7 linked regions of the Homo sapiens genome follow. The protein of the gene in region 5 purifies or fractionates together with the protein of the main gene of each other region. This does not show direct contact. Each region holds a gene or a part of one and is shown on either strand. Other genes may lie near its edges. The genes, in order: TUBGCP2, SLC35G2, SFXN5, PDS5B, MAS1, ITPRIP and SPG7.

Region 1 (3,500 bases), on a different chromosome or scaffold from region 5:
CAAGCTCAGGTGATTCTCCCACCTCAGCCTCCCGAGTAGCTGGGACTGCAGGTGTGCACCATCACACGCAGCTAATTTCTGTATTTTCAGTAGAGACGGGGATTCGCCGTGTTGCCCAGGCTGGTCTTGAACTCCTGGAGTCAAGCGATCTGTCCACCTTGGCCTCCTAAAGTGATGGGATTACAGGTGTGAGCCACCATACCCGGCCTAAAGCAACCCTTGAGGTCCCTCCACAGCCAGGCGGCTGGATCCACACTAACCCCCACCCCACGGCACCTCCACCCCACCGTGAGGCTTCTCCCCACAAGGGCATTGGCCGAGGCTTCGTGGCTGTGGATGAATGAGGCCAACATGGTGGAAAGTAAGTGATGCAGAGTCAGAGGCAGTTCCTGGAAGATGCACTCGCTGTTCCCAAAACGCCAAGCCACACCCACTCCTTTAGGGATGGTAGACATTGGGGTCTCGGTTTTATTGGTCATCCTGAGAAGGCCACTGGAGTAATAGAAAGAAATGGAATTTGAAGTTGAAAAGTGTAGATCTGCCAGCCTGGGCAACACGGCAAGACCCCACCTTTACAAAAAATTTAAAAATTAGCCAGGAATGGTGGCACGTGCCAGTGGTCCCAGCTCCGAGGGAGACTAAGGATACAGGATCGCTTGAGCCTGGGTGCTCAAGGCTGCAGTGAGCTGAGATTGCACCACTGCCCTCCAGACTGGGTGACAGAGTGAGATTTGTCTCAAAAATAAAAAAAGGAAAAAAAAAAAACAAGGACAGTGTGGATCTGCATCAGGATTGAGGCTTTCGCTGAAGGGCTTGCGTTGGTGACGGATTGTAGTCTTGAGGCCTGCAGTCACAGGACACTTCCCAGCAGATGTGTGAGGCTGACAGAGTGATTTTGTAAACCGAAAGCCTGTTGTACGGAGCCTTCCTGAGCTGCCAGGGCCTGGTTTGGGTATGGTCTGGCTGGCACGGGGCCCTGTCAGGCCCTCGTGGGGACAGTTTCAACATCCTGCTTTCGTCTGGTGCTCCTCCCGGCCCCCCAGGCATGGCCCGCCTGAGGCTGTGGACTGAGAACTTGGTCCTGGGACCTGAGGGGTTTGGTGGGTGGCGGCCCGTGGCCGTCCTCGTGAGGAAGCTTAGCTGTGTGTCCTGCAGCCGTCTCATCCTCTCTGGATAGAAATTATCAAGAGTTTCTTAACGTTTAAGTGATAGCTTTTTAAAGACAAGGTTTTTTGTCCCAGAGTAACTCAGACTTACCAAGTTGTACTTACCAATGTTGAAAGTGCAGCTTCTGCTGGAGTCGCCTTTTCAACTCCTAACTTCACCTTTTCAAATGTCAGCCATGTATCTGAGCATTGCGGAGCCGAGTGTGGTGAGATCTTGACACCAGCCACCACGCCTCCCAGGCCGGCCCCGTCCTGCGGCGGTTGGAACTCAGCCTGTGGCTCCCCAGTGGGGTCAGTCAAAGCCAAGTGCAGTGGCTGACCTTTTATACCCATAAACAAAGATGAGCAAGAGTGAGACTGACCCGCAGATGAGGGCACGTGGCTGTGGGGGCATGGGAGTGGGGGCTGCAGAGCCACAGCGCTGTCTGTGCCCGCAGGCACGTTGCCCCTGGCCTCGCAGGAGTCGGCCGTGGTGGAGGACCTGCTGTACGTGCTGGTGGGCGTGGACGGGAGGTACGTCAGTGCTCAGCCCCTGGCTGGGAGGCAGAGCCGGACCTTCCTCGTGGACCCCAACCTGGACCTGTCCATCAGGGAGCTGGTGCACAGGATCCTCCCAGTGGCCGCCAGCTACTCCGCTGTGACCAGGTGGGCACCGGGCGCGGTCCCTGGGAGCCTGCGCTGTTGTGGGGGAGGGGTTAGGTCCCATCCTGATGACCATGGGGACGTCTGCATCGCTTCTAAAGAGAGCGCCCGCCTTGGTGACAACTCCGTGCCCAACTCAGTTTTGGAGGGTCTGTGAGTCACCATCCAGGGTCCTGACTCATCTCCTCCTGGGGCAAAAGTTCCCCTCTGGGATGTGGGGTTCAAGTGAGTCATTTGCTTCCTGTTTGGGATGAGACTCAGAATATCGGACATTGTATGTGCCTGCAGCTTGCCTTTTTGAGGAAGTCTGACAGCTTTTCTTCCAGGTTCATTGAAGAGAAGTCTTCCTTCGAGTACGGGCAGGTGAACCACGCCCTGGCGGCCGCCATGCGCACCCTGGTGAAGGAGCACCTGATTCTGGTGTCACAGCTGGAGCAGCTGCACAGGCAGGGCCTCCTTTCGCTGCAGAAGCTCTGGTTCTACATCCAGCCAGCCATGCGCACCATGGACATCCTGGCCTCCCTCGGTGCGTGCCCGCCCGGGGGGCATGGGGCAGTGGTGGGTGGCAGGTGTTGAACATGGCACCCAGTGTGAGGAGAGACTCTGCAGGGGCCGTGGAGCAGCTGCCCAGGGCAGGGGCGTGTGGCCAAAGCTCATGTTGCTCCATGTGCTATTAACTTGCAAGAGGAAAGCCCTGGAAGCTCTTACTGGTCAGCTGAAATCAGCAACTACAACCTTACAGTTAATACGTATCCCAAAGAAGCAGCACCGTCCCAGGAAGAAGGTTGGAGAAGCATGAGGGGCCCCAGCAGTGTTGTTGGCAGAGGCTGGGCGTGCGCTTCCTTCTCAGCAGTGAGCCCTCCTTTCTCCCCACAGCCACCTCGGTGGACAAAGGCGAATGTCTTGGGGGGTCCACGCTGAGCCTGCTCCACGACAGGAGCTTCAGCTACACAGGGGACAGCCAGGCGCAGGAGCTATGCCTGTACCTAACCAAGGCGGCCAGTGCTCCCTACTTCGAGGTTCTGGAGAAGTGGATCTACAGGGGCATCATCCACGACCCATACAGGTAGGGCTCCCCGGGACACGGGGACACGGAGGGACACGGGGACACGGAGGGACATGGGGGACACGGAGTGTGCATGCTGCCCTCTCCCGTACAGGTAGGGCTCCCCGGGACACGGGGACACGGGGGACACGGAGGGACACGGGGGACACGGAGTGTGCATGCTGCCCTCTCCCGTACAGGTAGGGCTCCCCGGGACACGGGGACATGGGGGACACGGAGGGACACGGGGGACACGGAGTGTGCATGCTGCCCTCTCCCGTACAGGTAGGGCTCCCCGGGACACGGGGACATGGGGGACACGGAGGGACACGGGGGACACGGAGTGTGCATGCTGCCCTCTCCCGTACAGGTAGGGCTCCCCGGGACACGGGGACATGGGGGACATGGGGGACACGGAGGGACACGGAGGGACACGGAGGGACACGGGGGACACGGAGGGACATGGGGGACACGGAGGGACACGGAGGGACACAGAGGGACATGGGGGACACGGAGGGTGCGTGCTGCCCTCTCCCGTACAGGTAGGGCTCCCCGGGACACGGGGACACGGAGGGACACGGAGGGACATGGGGGACACGGAGGGACATGGGGGACACGGACGGTGCATGCTGCCCTCTCCCGTACAG
Region 2 (4,024 bases), on a different chromosome or scaffold from region 5:
AGAATCGAGGAGTAGAATGGTGGTTTCCAGGGACTGGAGGGCAGGGGAAAATCAGGAGTTATTAATCAACAGGCATAAAGTCTCAGTCAAGCAAGATGCATAAGCTCTAAAGATCTGCTATACAGCATTGCACCTATCAACAATACATATCAACAATAATGTATTATACACGTAAAATTTTGTTAAGAAGGCAGGCCCGGGTGCAGTGGCATACGCCTGTAATCCTGGCACTTTGGGAAGCCAAGGCAGGCAGATAACCTGAGGACAGGAGTTCAAGACCAGCCTGGCCAACATGGTAAAACCCTGTCTCTACTAAAAATATAAAAACTAGCTGGGTGCGGTGGCCAGCTACTCAAGAGGCTGAGGCAGGAGAATCCCTTGAACCCGGGAGGCAGAGGTTGCAGTGAGCGGAGAGCACGTCACTGCACTCCAGTCTGGGCAACAAGCAAGACAATGTCTCAAAAAAAAATTTTTTTTTTGTTCAGAGGATAGATCTCATGTTACATATTCTTTCCACAATAATTTTTTTAAGTCTAAAAAATTGGACATAAATGTTCATTATGGGATTGTTTAAAAAACTTACATTCTATCCACACAGATCAATATTATGCAACCCTTAATAATGATGACCTAGTTTTATGATGAAAGACATTAATTATAAATTATATAGCAAAAACGCAACCAATAGAGGATTGGTCCATTTAAAATGTATGCATGTTCATCTAAATGAAAATCTGTTTACAATGGTTTTCTATGTTTATGCATTTCTCTATTACCTAAAATTCTTATAATGAGCATATATTTTTTAAGGAAAAAACAATACCAATGTTTTTGAAAAATACAAATGTAAACTTTAAGAACTTCACACAAACCACATACCACCAATATATTTAAAATTGTCTGCATTATGATACATTTTAGTCATATGTTAAGATTATAAATTTCTATGATTATTTATATGTTGTTCTTATTAAAATTTACATTAATTCATTTTCCTTAAGCTTTCTTTAAGGAATTTTTTTGGTATCAATATCAATTTTACATCTTCCTAGACTTTTGTTCTGGAATGTAAATGAGTATAAATACTTAATTGCTCAGCCAAATACCAAACACTTCAATCCACAGGCTCTGTGCCTTTGGAACAGATGATTATGAAAATAAATGGCTCTGCAGAGTTCACATTTACTAGAAGTGTCAAAAAATAAAGATGGATTACAAAAGCTCTAAAAAATGTGTGGCTTGTAGTGTGTAATGGTTTTCAAAAGGGATGAGTGTATTTGCATGTGTGTTAGGTTTGTGCGTAAATGCACATACCTGTATCTTTCATAAGTATATGTGAGAATTCCTGTTTACGCTCATGGTGTGTACTTTCTCATAGGTAATAAAATCTGTTATGCATATGCTTATCTGTACCTCCAAGGCAAGCCACATTTGCTTTCGGGTTATGTTCAGGAAACCAGCCTCAACTTGTCTGAAAAGAGTTTCAGTGTTGGGCCTGCTCCACTCTGGCCACCAGCCATGGAGATGGGCTATTTTTGGCAAAGGTGCAGAGTAGAAGGGCAACGCAGGCCGCGGCCCAGGAAGTCAGTCGACGAGGGCGCGCGAGGCACTTCAGCACCACGGACATAGGCAAGCCTGAGCCAAGTCCTTTCCCGCGGAGGAAGATCGCTCCTCCGGAGCTACCCCCAGCCCTCTGGACCTACCCCCAGCCCTCTGGACCCACCCCCAGCACTCTGGACGTGGGGGGTTACTATCTCCAGGTCCTCGATCAACACTCGGACCCGAGCTTTCCGCCTCGCTCCTCGCGGAGCCGGGTGAAAGAAAACCTGGCCCGAGATGCAGGTCCGCGCTGAGCCTTCATCCGCCGCAACACGAGTCTCTTTCCTGCCGGCCCGCGCGACCCTTCTTCCCTCTCCTCCTCTCAAATGAGGCCAAATGGGTGCACGTGGCGTAGAAATTCTACAGCGCCCAGAGCACTGTGAGGAAAGATTCGCCTTTTCCTCCCCGTGGCTGCTGGAGGCTGTGCGGACTTGCCCTGAGCCTTCTCCGCCACTCTCGGCCGTGACGAGGCCCTTCCTCCACTAACCCTTGCCCTCGTCTTCCCTTGGGAAAAGATGTCTACAAACCGTCGATGTACCACGAAAATCTCAGCGCCCACAGACTGGCGTTCAAGAGTCATGGACATGAGACAAGAGAGTAATGGAAAATACAAATTCTTGGCCATATTTCTAAAATCATCCAGCCTTTTTTAAAACTTGTATTTGAAATTGATCCCATATGACGCCACAGTGACTCACCCCTTGCTTGGGTTGGCTACTGGGCGAGAGGAAAGCAACAGCCCCTGGCCTTCATCATGGACGCTGCAGGAGGGCCCAGACACGCGACAGCGGAAAGAAACGGGAAACCGGGCCGTAGCCGATGCTGGCCCTCCCGTCCCCGTGTCCCGGTTCTCCAGGAGGGCAGCACAGAGAAATGCGGGCCCCGCGGCCTTTCAGGCGTCGTGCAGAGCACCCCGAAGTCTGCAAAGCGGGCGGGGCGCGTCGCCCCCAGCCCGGCCCTTACCCAAAAAGACTGTTGTGCCCCTTAGGTGTGGCGGCTAAACGCGGGTGTGTGGAGTTCGGGGTCCGCTCTCATTCCCTTGTCGGGCGGCCGGGCAGGCAGGATCAAGGTCCCAGTCCGCCGCCGCCGACCGGCTCCCGGGGCCCGGTTACCTGCGTGTCGTGGCGAGGAAGGTGCCCCGGAGGCGACTGACGCGGGCGTGCCCTCGCCTGGGAAAATCGAGGCGGGCGCTGCCCGGAGTACTGCGGAGGGAGAGGGGCGCCGCCGCGCGGACTCTGCGCCTGCGCTCTCCGCCCTCCGCCGCCCCCACCCCACAACCTGACTGGCGCCGGAGTTGGAGACTGCGGGGGACGCTCAGGGTTGTGCCTGAACTGAAGGACTTCCTCTACCCGCGAGGTGGGAGGGTCCACGGGAAAGCGCCCGCCCGGGCCCCTCTAGCTTACGCCCTTGGAGGGCGCTTGTTTGAAGCAATTGCCTGTCTGCCAGGGCTACGTAGTCCGCTGCAAGTGGGCACGGAGGCAGTTTCTGTCCATTTCCACCCATTGTTTGCGCTTAAAAGTCGCAAGTCTATTCCTTCATGTTTAAATATGTGTCCAGCATCGGAAAATCGTGGTCCGGAAAAGTCTTCGGGCATCCCCGAGTCCACCCGCCATTTTACTGATAAGGTCTCTGAGGGAAGGGTCTTGACACTGCACAGCTGGTTCTTCTACCCAAGTGCATATGCCCCAGTCCCAAGTGGAATGAATATAGCCTCTTGGAAACAGACTGGTCATTAAAAGCAGTGGATTTGATGGGTCCAGGGGACAGGCAAGAAAGGGTAAGGGCTGAACCAAGGTGCTGGCTGTGGGAAAAAACAGGAGGTGCTTGCTGGTTTTTCCTCTGTCCCTTCAGACCCACTCTCCACTCTGCTCTGTGACTCAGGACTGACCTTTATGGGCTACGTCAACTATAATCTGGCTTTCAATTGGTTTTGGCAAGTGGGAGGCACCTGCAGATCAGAAGGCAGGATGTGATTCAGGACCTCCCCTGCATCCCCAGCGGGCCACCCTGTTAGCAGTGGCTATGTTCTTCATCTGAAAGCCATTACTCCCATCCTGTGGCCCTCTCCTGCAGTTTTCTCCAGGTTCTGGTTACCACTAACTACCCTTGCCCCTTCAGGCCTGGAGTGGGTAATGACGCCCAGAGGTTTCCTTTAACCCCATCCACACCTTTTTAAATAGTCCCTTCATTAAACTCTCCTCAACTATCCCATCTTTTCCCCACCTTTCCAGGACGCTATAATAGATTTTAGTCCATTGCGGTTGGCAAAATTCATGAGGACAAAAATATATGTAAAAGAAATACGGGGCTTTTAAAAGGCGAGAAGTCTTCCAGAGCCATCTTGACAGTTCCCTGGGCTCCAGGCAGCCAGCATGCTAGGTGGTCTCCCCACTGGGCCCCATAGCCCGAGGGTGCTAGTTTAGGT
Region 3 (3,500 bases), on a different chromosome or scaffold from region 5:
AGGCTCCTCAACCCCGCGTGTCCATCCAACTGACCCACTGCCCTCCCTCGAACCTGCCCCCGCCTGGCTCCATCTCATTAAGCACCTACATCTGCCTGGTTGTTCAAAACCAGAAAGCCAGTGCACATCCTCTGGCTCCCGTTCCCTCCCACCACATACAGCTCTTCATCGAATCCCGAAGAAGCCGCCTCCTGACTCCCTCTTTAGGGACCCACTTCTCTCCATGCCCACTGCCAACAGCCTGGTCCAAGCCGCCATCACCGCTTGCTGGATGCCCGCCACAGGCTCCTGATGGTTCCTTCTCTGGAGCTCTAACCCAGCCCCACGCGGCAGCACAGGGGCCGCTCAGAATCAGGCATCTGTGGTCTGCCCTGCACAGCCCTTAGGAGGACATTCACCCTCTCTGTTCTGGCTTCCAAGTTCCCAACACCACCCAGCCCAGCCCCTCATTCCCAGGCCACATCACCTTGCTGCACTCCCTGGTTGCGCTGCAGACTTTGGTCAGCTCTTGGACATGGCGTGTGCTGCCTCACCTCTCAGAACCTTCACACCAGGTGTCCGCGGACCTCACATCTCCCCCCGCCACCCCTTTTCATCTGGCCAACTCCAGCCACGCTCCCAGTCCCAGTGAAATGTCACTTCCCTCTAGGCTCAGTTTGGTCTGCTGTCTCCTTCCACACCCAGTGGAGCTTCTCCCACCCTAACGCTCCTGGCTCCTCATCTGCTGGCCTCTGTTTAATCACCCTGTTGACTGCGTGACCCTCACTCTGAGGGCCAGAGCCTGGGCCAGCCTCATTCACGGTTCCAGCCCCAGCGCCTAGCATGGCGCTAAGGAGTCGGCACGGTATGAGTATTTGTTCAGAAATCACCAAACAGCACCCCCTGCCCTGCCCTGCCCTTGAGCCCCTCCCCACTGACCTCTGACATTTGCGGGAAGAGGCTGATGGCCAGCGGCAGGGCCAGGCCGAAGGCTGCCAGGCACACGAGGCTTTGCACAGGGAGGAGCAGCCGGGGGCGTGCCTGCAGGAGAGCCGTCCTGTGAGGGAGAGAGGAGGGAGCCCCATGAGACCCGAAGGTGGGGTGGGCTGGCTGCCAGCCACCATGCTGGGTCCCACTCTGTCTCTGGGCCCAGGAAGCGTGGTTCCGGGGCAGTGCCAGTGTGCAGCTAAACAGATATAGCAGAGTTCTGTCTTTGGGACCTTTTCCCGATAGGTACCCCTATCCCAGCGGGTATAGACCCCTATCCCAATGTCTTGAAGGACGTTGCTGGCTGAAACCTCAATTACTCAGGTCACGAATGAGTACTTTCGGGGCACCCACCCGCCACGCGTCCAGCCCCGTGCCAAGAAGGCCCTATGTGGGAGAGACACTCAAAGAGGCTGTCGGCCCCTGTTCCTGGGGAGACACATAGGGACGTAAGATCGCTCTCGAGGGCAGCACGTAATTAAACAGCAAAGAAACCAGAGTAGGTGCCAAGTTCAGGGGAGATGACAAAGCACATACATATGGGCACACGCCAGCCAGGAGGGGGTGATCCTCCTCTATGTGTGAGAACAGAAGACACCCCACTGGCCACCTTGTCAATTTCAACCCAAGGGCAACAGAGGGTGCAATGACTCGTCCAAGGCCAAGTCTGCAGGAGGCTGTCAGAGCTGCTGCCTGGACCCCTGGCTCCCCGAGGGTGCTGTCACCCCAGCTGGTCCCCTGTGCCAGCTTCATCACCAACACAACACAGCTGGCACCCTCTTCCCATGGCTGGCTTCGGAGCTGGTTTCCTGGGCAGGGGAGGGGGCATGATAAACCTCCCTTTGGGGCCCAGGCTCCCCAGACAGCGTGGGGACATACCAGCTGGCCAATGTGCCTGCACTGTGTTCATCGGAGCTTCCTGTTTTGCTCAATACAGCAGGCCCTTCAGCGGGGACCACAGCATTCCACCTGGGGAGGCCTGGGATGACTAGACTATTTGCCAGGGGGTGTTGGGCAGGCACTAAATCTGACCTCAGTAACTGTTAGCCTCCAAGTGACAGGCTCCTGGTGTGAAGGGGAAATAATCCAGGCTCTTATCCGCCGCCCCCAGCAGGGCTGACCATGCCACAGGCAGGTAAGGGGCCCTCCTAGGGGCAGAGCCCCAATGTGGCGGGCAGTAAACCCCATATACTGTCACCTCTTGAGACAAGAATCCCAACAGCAACTGGCCCTGAGAAGACAGCAAAATTGGGAGTAGTTTTCAAAAGTTAAAGTGCATCAGCTGGACTGGGCAACTGGTTAAAAATGCAAATGCCCAAGGGTTGCTTACAACCATGAAAGCCTGATTCAGTGGGCACTGGACCTGGAAATGTGCATTTTAACCCTCCATGAGTCTAAAATGGTGATCCCAGACCACACTTCTGATAAACCCTGGCCCTGGATGTTCCTGCTCAGGTATTAATAAAGATCCCATTACTTGCAAATCCTATGCAAGTAAAAGGGTGAGCCCTGGCCTGGCACACAGTAAGTGCTCAGAAATTATGTGTCATTATTGCTGTTGTTATTGCTCATGTTACCTGCGGGAAGGTAGGATCCTGGTAGCCCACCTGTCTTCCAGTCCTTCCCACAGGCCCAGACCGCAAGGTTTGTCCAGCTGCTAAATCCGGCCTGAATTAAGCTATTGGAAAGGGGAGTTTCCACAGGATTGAGCAGTAGGACCAAGGTGCCTAAATCAAGCCCAAACCCCTCTGATCCTCCAATCCCCATCCAGCACCCCCACCCTCTCTCTCTACTCCATGCTAGCCCATGCCCGCCTGGACTTCCTTAGGGGTCGTGGAGGGGCTGGGAGTAAGGCTGAGAGGGCCCTGAGATGAACTTCTCAAGCAAGATGAGGAGCGGGGGATACAAGGCTCATTCTCCAAGCTTCATACAGAGTCTGGAGGCCCTGCTTGGAGGAGGCTGTGGAAGGACGGGGCTGCCCTCCTGTTCCAGTGGCAGTGACTAGAGGGTGTGGAGTCCCTGGAAGCACAGCCCCGAGGGTCCCTGCCCACAGCCCTGAGAGCAGTGAAGGGTGAGAAAAAGAAAGAGAGACGCTACCCCCGGCAAGTGAAGAGCAGGCCATGGGCTCAGTCCTTGGGACCTGCTGGTGGGGACACTAGACAGACCCCCTTTCTGTGGGGCTGTGACCAAGGCTCCTCTCTCAGGGTGGCTGGCTGAAGTACTCAGTGGGAAAGAGGTCCAAGAAGTCTGAGGCCTGGGCTCCCAGCTCAGGAAGGAGTCAGGCCTGAGGCTGAAACAGGAGCCTCGGAAGCCCCAGCCCAGAGCAGGCCTGAGAGCGAACACAGTAGGACAGGGGGAAGGGAGGGGGGAGGAAAATGGCAAGGAGGGAAGGGAAAGGCAGCTGGGGGAGTTAAAATATGTAGATGGAGAGATGTGCGAATGCCTGGGAGAAAGGAAAGACCTGGAGCCCAGGGAGTAAAGGAAGCTGGGGGAGCGGACTCAGGGCTGTGGCCTGGGCCCGGAGCCAACTCAGA
Region 4 (3,500 bases), on a different chromosome or scaffold from region 5:
GATTACTGCATATCTTATGCACATATACCCATTTTAATTAAGCATCTGGTGACTTTCCTTTTAAGGTACGGCGGCGAAGTGCTAAAAGGGAACGGCGATGAACAAATGTAATTAATAACTTTCTCTGTGAAAGCTTTGGAAAAATCTTTTTTTTTTTTTTTGGTCAAGCTTGAGGCTGAATAAAGCCTTTGATGCACAAAATGGGACTGCTGAAGAGTGGACAGTTGGACCTTACTTTGGTGACCCCATACATTTGTGGTCACATGCTTTAGCCATACACATGGTAACATTGACTATGGAGTCTTGTGAAAGTGTAATGTGCGATGGCTATGTAGACATAAAGAAGAAACTTGTAAATATCTTTTTTCTTTTTTTTAATGTTTCTGATTTCTGAAGTGCTTGTATAGCTTTTATCTGCGGCTTTAAACTGACAGTACCCGACTGTTTATTGGATCTATTGATTTGAAAAGAATTTGTTAGGATAGATCTTAAGCAGTAATCTGTCAGTGTTTGTATTTGTATTCTCTGCAATTTTACTGTGAAAAAAAATTTGTTTTCAACAATTGGTGTCATTTTCTTGATGTCACTATTTGTTGGAGAGTTAAATGGTCTCTTCCCTTTGTGTATCTTACCTAGTGTTTACTCCTGGGCACCCTTAATCTTCAGAGGTGCTAAATTGTCTGCCATTACACCAGAAGGATGCCTCTGATAGGAGGACAACCATGCAAATTGTGAAATAGTCCTGAAGTTCTTGGATTACTTTACACCTCAGTATTGATTTGTCCCAGAATTTTCTGGCCTTTCATGGCAATGAAAATTTTAAGAAGAAAGATTTAAAGTATTTTAATTTTAAAGAGTGTGTTATAAAATAATGTACTGAATTCTTTATCCCATTTTATCATCCTTTCAGTTTTTATTAATCTACTGTATCAATAAAATTCTGTAATTTGAATGAGTTTTTAATAGTCTAGAATGTTATTGTGTATAGATATTTCCTCTTGAACGTTATGTTCAGAAAATGCAAATTACACTATAATATAAAACCTGATATATACACATTAGAAATATTCCAGTTCTCCGTAACAGTGTAAAGTTAATCAGAAAGAAAAAATTTTATTGATGCAGTGTGTCTTTATAAAGCTGTTCTTGAAAGCCAAGTGTTTTGTATTTTATAGTGAGTTGCATGTTTTTGAAAAAAAGTGCTGAAAATGGGATGTGCTGTTTTCTGTAAATTCATATTTAGCCATAGTATATGATAGATTGCCCCATAACATAGTTTTTCATCAAGAGTTTATTATTGTACTTTATTTTGGAGCCAAAAAATTGATTCTGGGGGGTGGGGGCAGCGTAGAAGTGGTATATCCAAGTATATCAGCTACTGTAGTTGTCACAGTCTTGTGAACTTTGAATGAAATTCCACTTTGTCCAGATTGGGAGAAGTGGAAATTTATTTGGATTTAGAGCAGGTCTTTTTTTTTCTTCATTGTAATCTGCAAAATGTAGAAATAAATTACTTAAGGCAGTATCCTTTATACAGTTGTATAAACTGTATTTTGAACCAAAACATATAGGTTACTACTTAATGCTTACCTAATTTCATTTTAGTATTTTAGGTGCTGTTATGTTTTTTCATGGTTAACACCAGAGGGGAAAAAATCATATTCTAACTTATTAAATTTATCACATTGAATAGTGGAACATTTTCATATGATACACCATTATGTTTAAGATATATTTCCAAGATTGGTTATAATAGATGGGGCATATAATAAAGAAGCTACTATTTTGGAAAATGACATTTTACTATTTGCCAATGTATATTGCAATTGATGTGATTATTTTTCTTTTAAAGATTTGTTTGTGTTTATGAAACAGCCATTTATTTTTTAAAAAGTGTTTTGAATTGTGTCTTAATCTCTCCATATTCAACTATTCTTCATTTACAACAATAGTGACACCAGTAATTATGAGAGGCTGTCATATATCAAAGCAGCTCAGGTGGGATCAACATACATTGGTTTTGAAATGTTTCCTTAGCTCGGTTCTCCCAAACACATAATTTCTGTTTCAGCAGTACAAAGGCATGTTTTAAAATCTATAACATAAAGAATAAGGAATAGCTTTGTATTTTTGTCATTGATTAAATTGCACCAGAAATGTTTATGGAAATATTAAGAACATTTTATAAAACATACGAAAAAGTGATTGTGAAGGATTTTTATTTGCATGATTATAGTTAAGCAAATTTCATTTCACATTTTTGTAATGCTGTACAGCAGTTCACAAAAAAATGTTCATTGTAGATTTTGTTATGTTCAATGCCAATGAGTCTGTAATTTTACGACCTGTCTGTTCTTTTTTTGGGTGGATTACGATGTAAATTTTTCTTTTCTTTCTTTCTTTTTTTTTTTTTTTGTGTAGAAAAATAGGTGCAATAATGATCAAAGTTTTGATGTCTTGAGTCTCCATCTTAGGGGATTATCTTACGTTTAAGCTTAACATTTCATGTAGTAAGATTTGGAGAGCCACATACTTTACAGTAAAATTAAGTGTGTATAAAACATTAATTGCTAACAATTGTTAGCAAACTATTTCAGTGATAATGTTCATTTTGAAAATATGTACTGTATAACATTAAGAAAATATTTAACTCCCTGTAACAAGTTCCATTATGAAAATCTTATTCCTCAGTGAGGTTATCTTGCTGCACTCTGTAGCAAATTTGTTTAATCTACATTATAATAAAATTTCTTGCTGCAGTGCAACAGGAGGCTTTTTCAGTGATCTTCACTGTATATGTAAATTACAAATGTGGCTGTAAAACTTATTCCAGGTATTAAAGGTTAAATTGCTTTCTATATCTTCTTATAACTTGTAAGTCTGATTTTTAAGATTTCCTTTTGTCCACTTGTAAGAATGTCAGGAATTTAAGAATTTGTTTAAATTAGGCATATCTCTGCCATCACATAGTATTATGTCACCATAATGAACAATTGCTATTTAAATAGATAACCAATTTTCAGACACATTTTTGGATTTCTGTGAAGTTGAATAAACATAAAAGCTAATACAGTTGTATTATTTTGTGTATGTAAATCAACATATATATTTAAATACTAAATGGAGAAAGGCACATTTGATGATTTTTAATTTTGGAGCCTTTGTTTCATGAAGTGGAAACACGTCTCAGTAACTTTTTCCAAACCTTTTGTTTAAACTTCTCATGCAAAATGTTGGCGGACAGAGAATTCTAAGTATTATTTAAGTTGAATAATTGCGTAACTGAACAAAATAAATGTATAATATAAACTTTAAAAATAAGCACTAAATAAATAAGTTGCCAGTAGCAGTTTTATTAATTCGTTCAGCAAACATTTATTGAGTGCCTTCTATGTGCCAGGCACTCAAAAATTTTACTCAGTTTTGCAGAGGATAAAGTGTGATCAAGATAGTGTAAGTCCCTGCTTTTGTGGTACTTTCATTATGTTAGAGGTGGGTGA
Region 5 (3,500 bases):
GTTGGATTGCTGTTTTGGCCCACTGAGACTGCTCTGCCACCTGATGAGGCTCAGTTGGAGATACCCAGGACATTTGGGTATATGGGTCTGACATGCTGGGGAGATGTGTGAGCTAAAGCTGTGCATTTGGATTTCATCAGAAAATGGTGATGGTTGAAATGGTGGGATTGAACAAGACCACCCAAGGAGAGTCTGTGGAGTAGGAAGGGAAGAGGGTCGAGAACGGAGCCTGCAGACTGGCCAACACGGCAAAACTCCGTTTCTACTAAAAATACCAAAAAATTAGTCAGATGTGGTGGCGGGTGCCTGTAGTCCCAGCTACTTGGGAGGCTGAGGCAGGAGAATCACTTGAACCCGGGAGGCGGAGGCTGAATTGAGTGGAGATGGCACCACTGCACTCCAGCCTGGGCGACAGAGTGAGACCCTGTCTCAAAAAAAAAAAAAAAAAAAAAGAATGGAGCCTGGTGGAACTCCAAGGTGCAAAGGGCAGTGTAAGAAGAGATCCAGCGAAGGAGAAAGAAGAAGAACTGCAGGAAAGCAGGAGGAGAGCCAGAGGGAAGAAATATGCTAGGCTCTGGCATCATCTCGGAGACAAGAGGCGAGGAGACGTGAAGTGGGGTTCCATAGCAACATTCATGCATTGGGGAGGGGCTCGAGCCCCAGATCTTGTCTCACCTGCTTCTAGAGGACTTGGCTGAGAGCGCTGCGCTGTTGAATGCACTGGCTCCTTTCTCTTATTTGTTCTGATGAAAGGACATGCCTGAATTGCCCCCTCTGACATCAATTATCTTTACCCATAATGGTGAAGCATGGTGTCCTTCATCAATAGATGTGTTTATTGATAATAGTGATAGCTAGGAGCCACTCTGTTTCACAGAAGAAAGTGAAAACAGAGACAATATTTCTGAAAACAACTCATTCCTGTGTGTTTGTGTTGTTTTGGTTATGGGTTTGGTATTGGGTAGGTGGTGCTTTAATAAATAAAAATCCATTCTTTGATAAATAAGATCCATCCTTTGATAAATTAAAAACTCCATCTTTTAAGGATCTTAATTACTAACAACCCAGTTGATTGTGCGGTTGCTTCTGGCGACATAAAAGCCGTTAATAAATGTTCCAAAAGTCCTGACAGCCCCATGAATGGGTGTGTGAACTTCACACATAGACGGACTGTTGACAATGAGCTGGTGTGTGTGTATGTTGGGTGGGGCAGGGGAGGGCTAGAAATAGTGCCAATTTGGACCTGGGGCAATCCAGGCTCTGCTGCTGCCTTTGTTACTAAGTATGTAACCTTGGACTAGTCCTGAGTTAATTTCCTCACCTGGAAAAACAAGGGGGTGGTTTGCAGTATCTGCATGATTTTTTCAAGCTCTAAGTCTTAATGATCAGCACAGGATGGTCTGACTTTACCAATAAGAAAGTGTTTTTAAGAAAACTCCAAGCCGCATCCTTTCATGTCTTTTATAAAATACTCCAGTTGCTGGGGAAAAATATAACATATACATATGTTGTAACGTATAACATATAACAAATTGCCATATTTACAAATGTTTCTTGCAGTTCAATAAAAGAAATGGACATAGAGTATGAAAAAACAATCCATCAAAAAATACAAGTAACCGTTAACATAAAAGAATGTCCAACCTCATTAGGAATCAAATAAATGCAAATTAAAACAAGGTATCTTTTATCATCTATCAAATTTGGGAATTTAAGAAACTGAAGATGTTGTAGAAAAAGAAACATATATATGCTGTGAAAAAAACTTTATATACTGTTGATGTTGGTATTAATATAATTGGCATGGTTATTTTGGATGACAGTTTGTTAATACACATTTAAATCTTGAAGAACGTTTATACCCTTTGGTCTAGCAATTCCACTTTTAGAAATATGTCCTAGGGGAATAATTAGAGATGTGCACAAAATTTGCATCCATATGAATTCATTACGGTGCTTTGTTTTTAAAAATAGCGGTGAAAAATCAGCAGCAAATGGATATGTCCAAGGCTAGGGGATTATTAAAAATGAATAATGAAAGCTGGGCACAGAGGCTCACGCCTGTAATCCCAGCACTGCGGGAGGCCAAGACAGGAGAATCAGTTGAGTCCAAGAGTTTGAGACCATCCTGGGCAACATGGGAAAACCCTGTCTCTACAAAAAATACAAAAACTCAGCTGGCATGGTGGCAAGTGCTCTAGTCCCAGCTACCTGGGAGGCTCACTTAAGCCCAGGAGATAGAGGCTGCAGTGAGCTGTGATCTCACTGCTGCACTCCAGCCTGGTTGACAGGGTGAGACCCTGTCTCAAAATTATAAATATATAAATAAATAAACAAATAAATCATGAGACCTTCAGTTAGTGATACTGAAGTCATACTTTTAGAGTATATACTGACATGAGTAAATGTTTACAATATGATACTGAGTAAAAAAAGGTAGAAAGAAAGGATACCAAAAGATTATAAAATGCAATCTCAATTTTAAAAACGAGCGTGTGTAAGACATTGAACAAAGACCAATGGAATATCCTAAATGTTGAATCTGGTTAATTTTTAATAGTAGTTGTATGTGTGGATTTTCTGAATTTTCTTCAATGAGCACATACTGCTTTAAAATTAGAAGAAAGGCGATAAACATTTAAAAGAAAATATCCCCATTTTGTGTTAAGATTAAAGAGGCTATAAAATGAGCCCTGCTGGGACTGTAACTGCCTAAAGGGTTCTCTTTGCCTGCTGCCCAGACAGAGCCGATTTATCAAGACGGGGGAATTGCAATAGAGAAAGAGTTTAATTCATACAGAGCCAGCTAAACTAGAGACCAGAGTTTTACCACTCAAATCAGTCTCCCTGAAAATCCAGAGACTGGGTTTTTTTGTTTGTTTGTTTGTTTGTTTGTTTGTTTTTGAGACGGAGTCTTGATCTGTCACCCCGGCTGGAGTGCAGTGGCTCGTTCTTGGCTCACTGCAAGCTCCGCCTCTCGGGTTCACGCCATTCTCCTGCCTCAGCCTCCCAAGCAGCTGGGACTACAGGCGTCCGCCACCACGCCCGGCTAATTTTTCTGTATTTCTAGTAGAGACGGGGTTTCACCATGTTAGCCAGGATGGTCTCGATCTCCTGACCTTGTGATCCGCCCGCCTCGGCCTCCCAAAGTGCTGGGATTACAGGCCTGAGCCACCACCCCCGGCCGGAGACTGGGGTTTTTTTTAAGGATAATTTGGTGTGTAGGGCACCAGGGAATGTGGAGTGCTGATTGGTCAGGTTGGAGGATGAAGTCACAGGAAGTTCAAGCAGTTTGTTTTTGCGGTCTTCTGTTTCTGGGTGGGATCACAGAACCGGTTGAGGCAGATTATCTGTCTGAGTGGCACCAGCTGGTGCATCAGAATGCAGGGTCTGAAAAATGTCTTGAGCACAAATAACAGATTTTACAACAGTGATGTTATCCCTAGGAGTAATGGGGAGGTAGAGAATCTTGTGGCCTCTGGCTGCATGACTCCTAAACC
Region 6 (3,500 bases), on a different chromosome or scaffold from region 5:
GCTGGGGCATTCTTGAGCATCTCATAGAAGGAGTCCAGTGTCTTACGGTAAAGGCTTCGCTGCAGGACGAAGGGCCGGAAGAGGTTGAGGGGCTCGGCCCTGAGCACGGCCTCAGGGAGTCCCATGGCCTCAGGCACCTTGCGGTTGCCGATGAAGAAGTGGTGGAGCTTCTTCTGGAGCAAGCTCTTCTCCAGGAAGCACAGCAACTCGTGCAGACGAGCGTCCAGCTGCCCCGCCTTCCAGTCGGCGGCCTGCCGGAGGAGTAGGAGGTGCAGTAGGGCCGTCTTCAGGTGGTAGCTGCTGAGCCCGCTGGGACCGGTCAGGCGGCTCTGCTTGGAGAGCAGGAAGGATGCTATCTGCAGGCAGCTGAGGTGGCAGGCGCCCTCGGGCAGTGCCTTTAGTGTCGTCCTGAGGAAGTGTCGCTCATAGACAGCAAAGGACAGGAGCCAGTCTGTGCTGGAGGCTGGGGTGCCCTCAGAGGGCTCCCTGGGAAGGTGGGAGACAAAGTACAGGTCCGAGTCATCACACTGGATCACAGGAATCAGGTTGAAGGGCATGAACTTCCCTGAACGGAACTTGATCTTCAGGGACCCCGGGCTGTCCAGCTGGCCAAAGGCCAGGTCGAACTCGTACTTGTGGGCGATGCCCTTCCAGGCTCTGGTGAGGGCCGTCTGGAACCACTTCATGACCTGCATCGTGTCCAGGTACAGGGAATCTGTGGCACACAGCAGGTTCTCCATGTCGCCGCAGGGAGGCGCCATGCTGTTCCTGCCGTGCAGGAGACACAGCATGTCTTCCCCGAGCTTGGTCTTGCCGCAGATGCAGCTCAATGTGTCCCCATCGGCGCGGACCACCTTGATCTGGCCGTAGCCCTGGCGATCCAGGGGCACTGAGCGGCCGGAGCACCAGAGCTCTGGGTGGAAGCGGTAGGGCTCGGGGGGTGTGAAGGGCACGAAAAGGTGGCACAGCAGTGGCCTGTCCACCTGCCAGTTCTCGTACATGCTGTCCACGCCAATGAAGTCCTCCACCTCCATGTCGGTGTCCCGGTTGCAGAGGCTCCTCAGGGCTTCCAGCAAGTCATCCACGAAGCCTTCCAGGAACTCCCGGGTACGGGCTGCATCGGCCGTGGCCCCCCGGATGCAGCGCTCATAAAAGTGGCCAAGCGTGGCCTTGTTGGGCAGGGTGAGGCCCTGCAAGGGGGCGCCCCCCAGCCCAGGCAGCTCATCCTCCTCACCGCCCAGGCACTCAGGTGAGGGCCCCTCCTGGTGGTCCTGCCGCCACACCTCGATCATCAGGAAGAGGATCATGCAGAGGGTGCTCCAGAGGTCCCAGGCCACGCGTGTCTCGTTCTGCTGCCTGCCCTCCTCCGCCACCTGCTCCAGTGCCTCCTTTTCGGCCGCCAGCCGAGCCACCTCCTCCTCCAGGCGCAACTGCTCCAGCTGCAGCTTCTCCTGGTGCGCCTGCATCTTGCGGATGATCTCCTCCTCGTTCTCGGGGACTGTGGCGTTCTCCCGCGGGAACAGCAGCGGGTGGTTGATGATGGCCGTCACCACCACCAGACACACGCGGAAGAGCCCCATGGCCATGGTTGGAGCTTTCCTGGGAACAGAGAGACAGATGGTCACACCAAGCTTCCCTCAATGCCACTTCGTCCCTGGGCCCCGCACCAACCTCAGCCCCTCAGGGCTGGTTAAGGTCTTAGTTCTCCCACCCAACCCATCGAGAGCTCCCTGCGGCTGCCTCAGGAGCTTCAGTCCAGCCATGGAAGAGCCCCAAAGGCCTACCCTGGGGTGGACATCTGTTTTAGTCCTACCCAGACATTCCTGGATGGCAGCAGCACCCCACTGTCCCTAACCCTTTTCTCCTACCAGTCCTTATGGCCAGGGCGAGGATATACCCACCTCCAAGCTCCTGGGGTGGGCTCAAAACCCAGGCCCAAGACAATCAGACATTCTGCCGCCCAGCTACAGCTAGAGCGATTGGTTCTGGGATGAGCATTTGATCCAATTCGGGCCAATGAGAGACAGATGTAGGGTGTGTTGGGCCCAATAGGAAGAAAGACTCATCCTGTTGCTAGTTTGGTTGCTAGGTTGCTGAGGGAACAGGATTATACCTGCAGTGGGCTCTCGGGAAGGGAGCCCGCCTGAGAAAGACACCAACATAGAGGAAAGCAGAACCCCCCCTCCCCACACTCAGCTCTGCTTGAAGGCATTGCTGTCTGAGCTCTTTAGTCACACAAGTCAATAAAGAAACCCTTTTTAAGTCAGTTTGAGTGGCCTTTCCACCACTTGAAATCAAAATAGTCCTGAATAACATATCCCCTTCTCTCCCAAGTGAATGTCATCTTCCTGCAATACAGTGAAGCCTAGTGGTTAAGGGAGAAAGGGCTAGGTTCCAAACCAGCACTGTCAACTGAAAAGCTGTGTGACCCTGGGCATGTTAACACACCTCTCTGAGCCCTGGTTTCCTTACTGCACAAGGGGAAAGCAATAGTATCTCACAGGGTCATGGTATTGAGAGACGCAATGATCCCTGCAAACTGCATGGCCCAGTGACCAGTGCAAAGCACATATTCACTGAACAATAACTGTTTCGGAAGTAGATTTGAGCCCTTATCCTCCTCTTCTGTAAACGTCTCTTTCTGACCTGGAAGACCTTACCCCATATTCAGACACACTCTCCTGGCTTTTGTCTTTCCCCAGGACAATCTTGATGATGACCAGAGAGCAAAGAATCACTAATTTCTTCTTACCAGGCATGTGAACTTTAAATCTAACTTCTTAATTGTGAAAGGAGGCACTCTGTTCCCCTAGGATAAGTGGATTTTTAAGCCTCAAGTGACTTTTGGAGAAAGGCTAATCCCTACAATCTTTGCAATTCGAAGTATGATTCACGGACCAGCAGCTGCAGTATCTCCTGGGAGCTTGTTAGAAATGCAGAATCTCGGCCCCACCCACACTTACTGAATCGGAATCCACATTTTAATACCATCCATATAAAAATCTGAGAGGCACTGTCTTACGCTGCAAGACTTAGTTACACCCTCTCCTCTCCTCAGCAGGAATCCTGGGACTTAACAATCTGCTATTTCCACACTTGAACTACCCCCCTCCTTGCTTGGGACCTCGATGAAGGAAGCAAATGGCCAAATGCAAATCAGTTGAGGTCCTGAGATTGTTGAGAGCACAGGGCTCCTTCTACCACCCCCTAGTGCACACTAACACTGGCTGATAGGAGCTACTGTGCCAACCTGAGCCCCATTCCCTTTGGCTTGAGCCCGACCTGGAATTTGCACAATGAAATTCTTGTCCTAATGGTGCCAAGGAACAGGGATTTGTCCCCAGGTAAAGATACCTCTGCAGGTTGTCCCTGGCAAGTGGCAGGATGGAGATGGACTGAGTTGGCTGCTGGTCACGCCTAGACAAACTTGCTGCTCAGATGTGACTCAGACAGTTCCACCCCATACACAGCTGGACAGGTCTGCAGGAACCACAAGGGTT
Region 7 (2,432 bases), on a different chromosome or scaffold from region 5:
ACTGCCTACCCATCTGTTCACAACATGGGACAAAGAGCCGTGCACCTCTCCTGAGTTCTAAGCAGCAGTTACCAAACCCAGGGACAAAAACGTTCACTCCAGCTCTGCCCACTGTGAGAAACACATCAGACAATCGCAACTGAGGAACGTCCTACAAAACATGAGACCAATCCTCAAAACTGCCAGAGCCCTCAAAACAAGGGAGGTCTGAGGAACTGTCACCCCAGAGGAGCCTAAGAAGATGGGCGATCAAACGCCATGTGGACTCCCAAGACCGGAAAGGACACTGGGGAGACTCAGCACATCTGAATCACGTGTGGACCCAACACCGCGGGTCGGCGGGGGCTCCTCAGGTGGGAGGACTGCCCCATGGGGGCCTCCACGGGAGCGAGGCAGGGTGGCAGGGAGCTCTCTGCACCGCGCCTGCAACTTTTCTACATCTAACACTATAATCAGCGTGGGGCTGTGGCTCACGCCTGTAATCCCAACACTTGGGGAGGCCGAGGCAGGCGGATCACCTGAGGTCAGGAGTTCAAGACCAGCCTGGCCAATGTGGTAAAACCCCACCTCTACTAAAAATACAAAAATTAGCTGGGCATGGTGACGCGTGCCTGTAATCCCAGACACTTGGGAGGCTGAGACAGGAGAATGCTTGAACTGGGGAGGTGGAGGTGGCAGTAAGCTGAGATTGCACCACTGCACTCCAGCCTCGTGACAGAGAGAGACTCCATCTCAAAAAAAAAAAAAAAAGAAAAGCCGAGTGTGTTGGTGCATGCCTGCAGTCGCAGCTACTCGGGAGGCTGAGGCAGGAGAATCACTGGAACCCGGGAGGCAGAGGTTGCAGTGAGCCAAGATGTCGCCATCGCACTCCAGCCTGGGTGACAGAGCAAGACTTTGTCTCAAAAAAAAAAAGAAAAAAAAATTCCTACTCTAAAATTAAAGCTTTGTTTTAAAAAAATGTTCAAGAAAAAAGTGTAAGACTTGGGAAAAGATTAAACAAAACTGACAAAACATTGGTAATTGCTAATGGCAGGAAGAGGCACAGGAGACTGTGGCAGCCTTCTTTCTACCTCGGGGGAACACACTTGACGAGTTCAGGATAAAAAGTATGGAACACGTAAGTTTCAGTTGAGCTGGGTAGAATTCACATCGGTCAGAGTGTTCTCTGTACTCTGTGTGCCTTGGAAATACTTCACGAGAGGGGTGGGGACCGTGGGTGCTGTGTGGACACTGTGTGACGCCGTAGCCCCCACGCCTGGCCAGGGCCTCACCGCCTGCAACTTGTCCAGGTTGTCCTGCAGCACCTTCTCGGTGTGTCTGTAGGCCTTGGCCACCAGCAGTCTTGCTTCCTGTGAGTGGAGGGAACTGTGTCAGGGGCAAGGCTGGCCGCCTGGCTCCAGCACCAAAGCACAGAAAAGAAATGGCAGACTGGGAACACGGCCTTTCCCCTCCCAGGAGGAACAGGACTCCTCAGCCGACAGGTGGTCTCCTGCCCCTGTGACCAGTGCCAGGAAAGCAGGGCTCCGCATGCCAGCCCACCCACCCACACCCACCCACAGCTGCCTCACAGGCACACATCGGCCCTTCCTGGCCCAGTCTGAAGGACATGTGGGCCCTGGGTCTATTGCTCGGTGTATTTATTTGATATTCTTCCCAGATTCACATCTATAATTTCATTAGGAGCATCTATGTCCTCATTTGAGAAGAAAATACTCCACAGGTGGGAACTACAGCAGAGCCCAGAAGGAAGAAACCCAGGTGGGGCCTGCAGCTGAGCTCCGCTGGGGCGGCCGTGGGCGACCCTTGTGTGGTAGACCCAGGGACTCCCTCCCCGGGGAGCACAGAGGGCAGCGGTGTGGCCAGAGCCGACTCACATGGTCCATCATCTGCTGCAGGCCTTGGCTGAAGGGGCGCCGCCCGATGCCCATGAGGCCCTCCTGCGCCTCAGGGAAGGAGATGGGCCCGATGCCAGGTGCCATCCCAAACTGCTTCACCATGGAGTAGGCGATGCGGGTGACCTTCCTCAGGTCGTCCTGTGCCCCTGGAGGGCGGGGTCGAGACAGAGGCATCCTCAGCACTGCAGGCGCAGAGCAGTGCTGGGCCCCAGGTGTCCCGGTCAGAGCACTGAGGCAGCACCACCTCCATCCCCTTCCTCCCGAGGACCCACCGTGAAGCTGGACAGTGAGGACGTTGGCACCTCACCACTGTTCCTTAAGAGAGTCTTAAAACTTTCCGAAATGCTCTTTTATTTGGAAATCTAGAACCCGGGGGCATACTGGAGCTCACTGCATGGCAGTTCTCAAGCACAAGCCCAGGCCTATGCGAGGCAAACCCATGGACCTGGAGCCCAGGGGCCCCCGGGACCCTCCTTCAGCTCTCTGGATATCCCAGTGCAGTAATGGCTTCAGAACAATGAAGCCGCTTCAATTTTA

Evidence for each region.
Region 1: the proteins of MAS1 (region 5) and TUBGCP2 purify together in Homo sapiens (affinity purification with mass spectrometry; 2 studies listed by BioGRID and IntAct, with this or other methods). This does not show direct contact.
Region 2: the proteins of MAS1 (region 5) and SLC35G2 purify together in Homo sapiens (affinity purification with mass spectrometry; 2 studies listed by BioGRID and IntAct, with this or other methods). This does not show direct contact.
Region 3: the proteins of MAS1 (region 5) and SFXN5 purify together in Homo sapiens (affinity purification with mass spectrometry; 2 studies listed by BioGRID and IntAct, with this or other methods). This does not show direct contact.
Region 4: the proteins of MAS1 (region 5) and PDS5B purify together in Homo sapiens (affinity purification with mass spectrometry; 2 studies listed by BioGRID and IntAct, with this or other methods). This does not show direct contact.
Region 6: the proteins of MAS1 (region 5) and ITPRIP purify together in Homo sapiens (affinity purification with mass spectrometry; 2 studies listed by BioGRID and IntAct, with this or other methods). This does not show direct contact.
Region 7: the proteins of MAS1 (region 5) and SPG7 purify together in Homo sapiens (affinity purification with mass spectrometry; 2 studies listed by BioGRID and IntAct, with this or other methods). This does not show direct contact.

What each region holds. Positions count from the first base shown.
Region 1 is NC_000010.11:133,291,873-133,295,372, reverse strand, and holds part of TUBGCP2 (gamma-tubulin complex component 2), read left to right. Parts: intron 1-1,603; coding exon 1,604-1,811; intron 1,812-2,134; coding exon 2,135-2,334; intron 2,335-2,684; coding exon 2,685-2,874; intron 2,875-3,325; exon of another isoform or gene 3,326-3,500. UniProt on the Homo sapiens protein: Component of the gamma-tubulin ring complex (gTuRC) which mediates microtubule nucleation.
Region 2 is NC_000003.12:136,817,902-136,821,925, reverse strand, and holds the start of SLC35G2 (solute carrier family 35 member G2), read right to left. Parts: upstream 2,801-4,024; 5' UTR 2,298-2,800; exon of another isoform or gene 1,414-2,297; intron 1-1,413.
Region 3 is NC_000002.12:72,960,213-72,963,712, forward strand, and holds part of SFXN5 (sideroflexin-5), read right to left. Parts: intron 1,037-3,500; coding exon 919-1,036; intron 1-918. UniProt on the Homo sapiens protein: Mitochondrial amino-acid transporter. Transports citrate. Does not act as a serine transporter: not able to mediate transport of serine into mitochondria.
Region 4 is NC_000013.11:32,774,952-32,778,451, forward strand, and holds the end of PDS5B (sister chromatid cohesion protein PDS5 homolog B), read left to right. Parts: intron 1-65; coding exon 66-101; 3' UTR 102-3,068; downstream 3,069-3,500. UniProt on the Homo sapiens protein: Regulator of sister chromatid cohesion in mitosis which may stabilize cohesin complex association with chromatin. May couple sister chromatid cohesion during mitosis to DNA replication.
Region 5 is NC_000006.12:159,893,988-159,897,487, forward strand, and holds part of MAS1 (proto-oncogene Mas), read left to right. Parts: intron 1-3,500. UniProt on the Homo sapiens protein: Receptor for angiotensin 1-7. Acts specifically as a functional antagonist of AGTR1 (angiotensin-2 type 1 receptor), although it up-regulates AGTR1 receptor levels.
Region 6 is NC_000010.11:104,314,466-104,317,965, forward strand, and holds part of ITPRIP (inositol 1,4,5-trisphosphate receptor-interacting protein precursor), read right to left. Parts: intron 1,600-3,500; coding exon of another isoform or gene 1,587-1,599; coding exon 1-1,586. UniProt on the Homo sapiens protein: Enhances Ca(2+)-mediated inhibition of inositol 1,4,5-triphosphate receptor (ITPR) Ca(2+) release.
Region 7 is NC_000016.10:89,553,403-89,555,834, reverse strand, and holds part of SPG7 (mitochondrial inner membrane m-AAA protease component paraplegin isoform 1 precursor), read right to left. Parts: intron 2,042-2,432; coding exon 1,875-2,041; intron 1,350-1,874; coding exon 1,272-1,349; intron 1-1,271. UniProt on the Homo sapiens protein: Catalytic component of the m-AAA protease, a protease that plays a key role in proteostasis of inner mitochondrial membrane proteins, and which is essential for axonal and neuron development.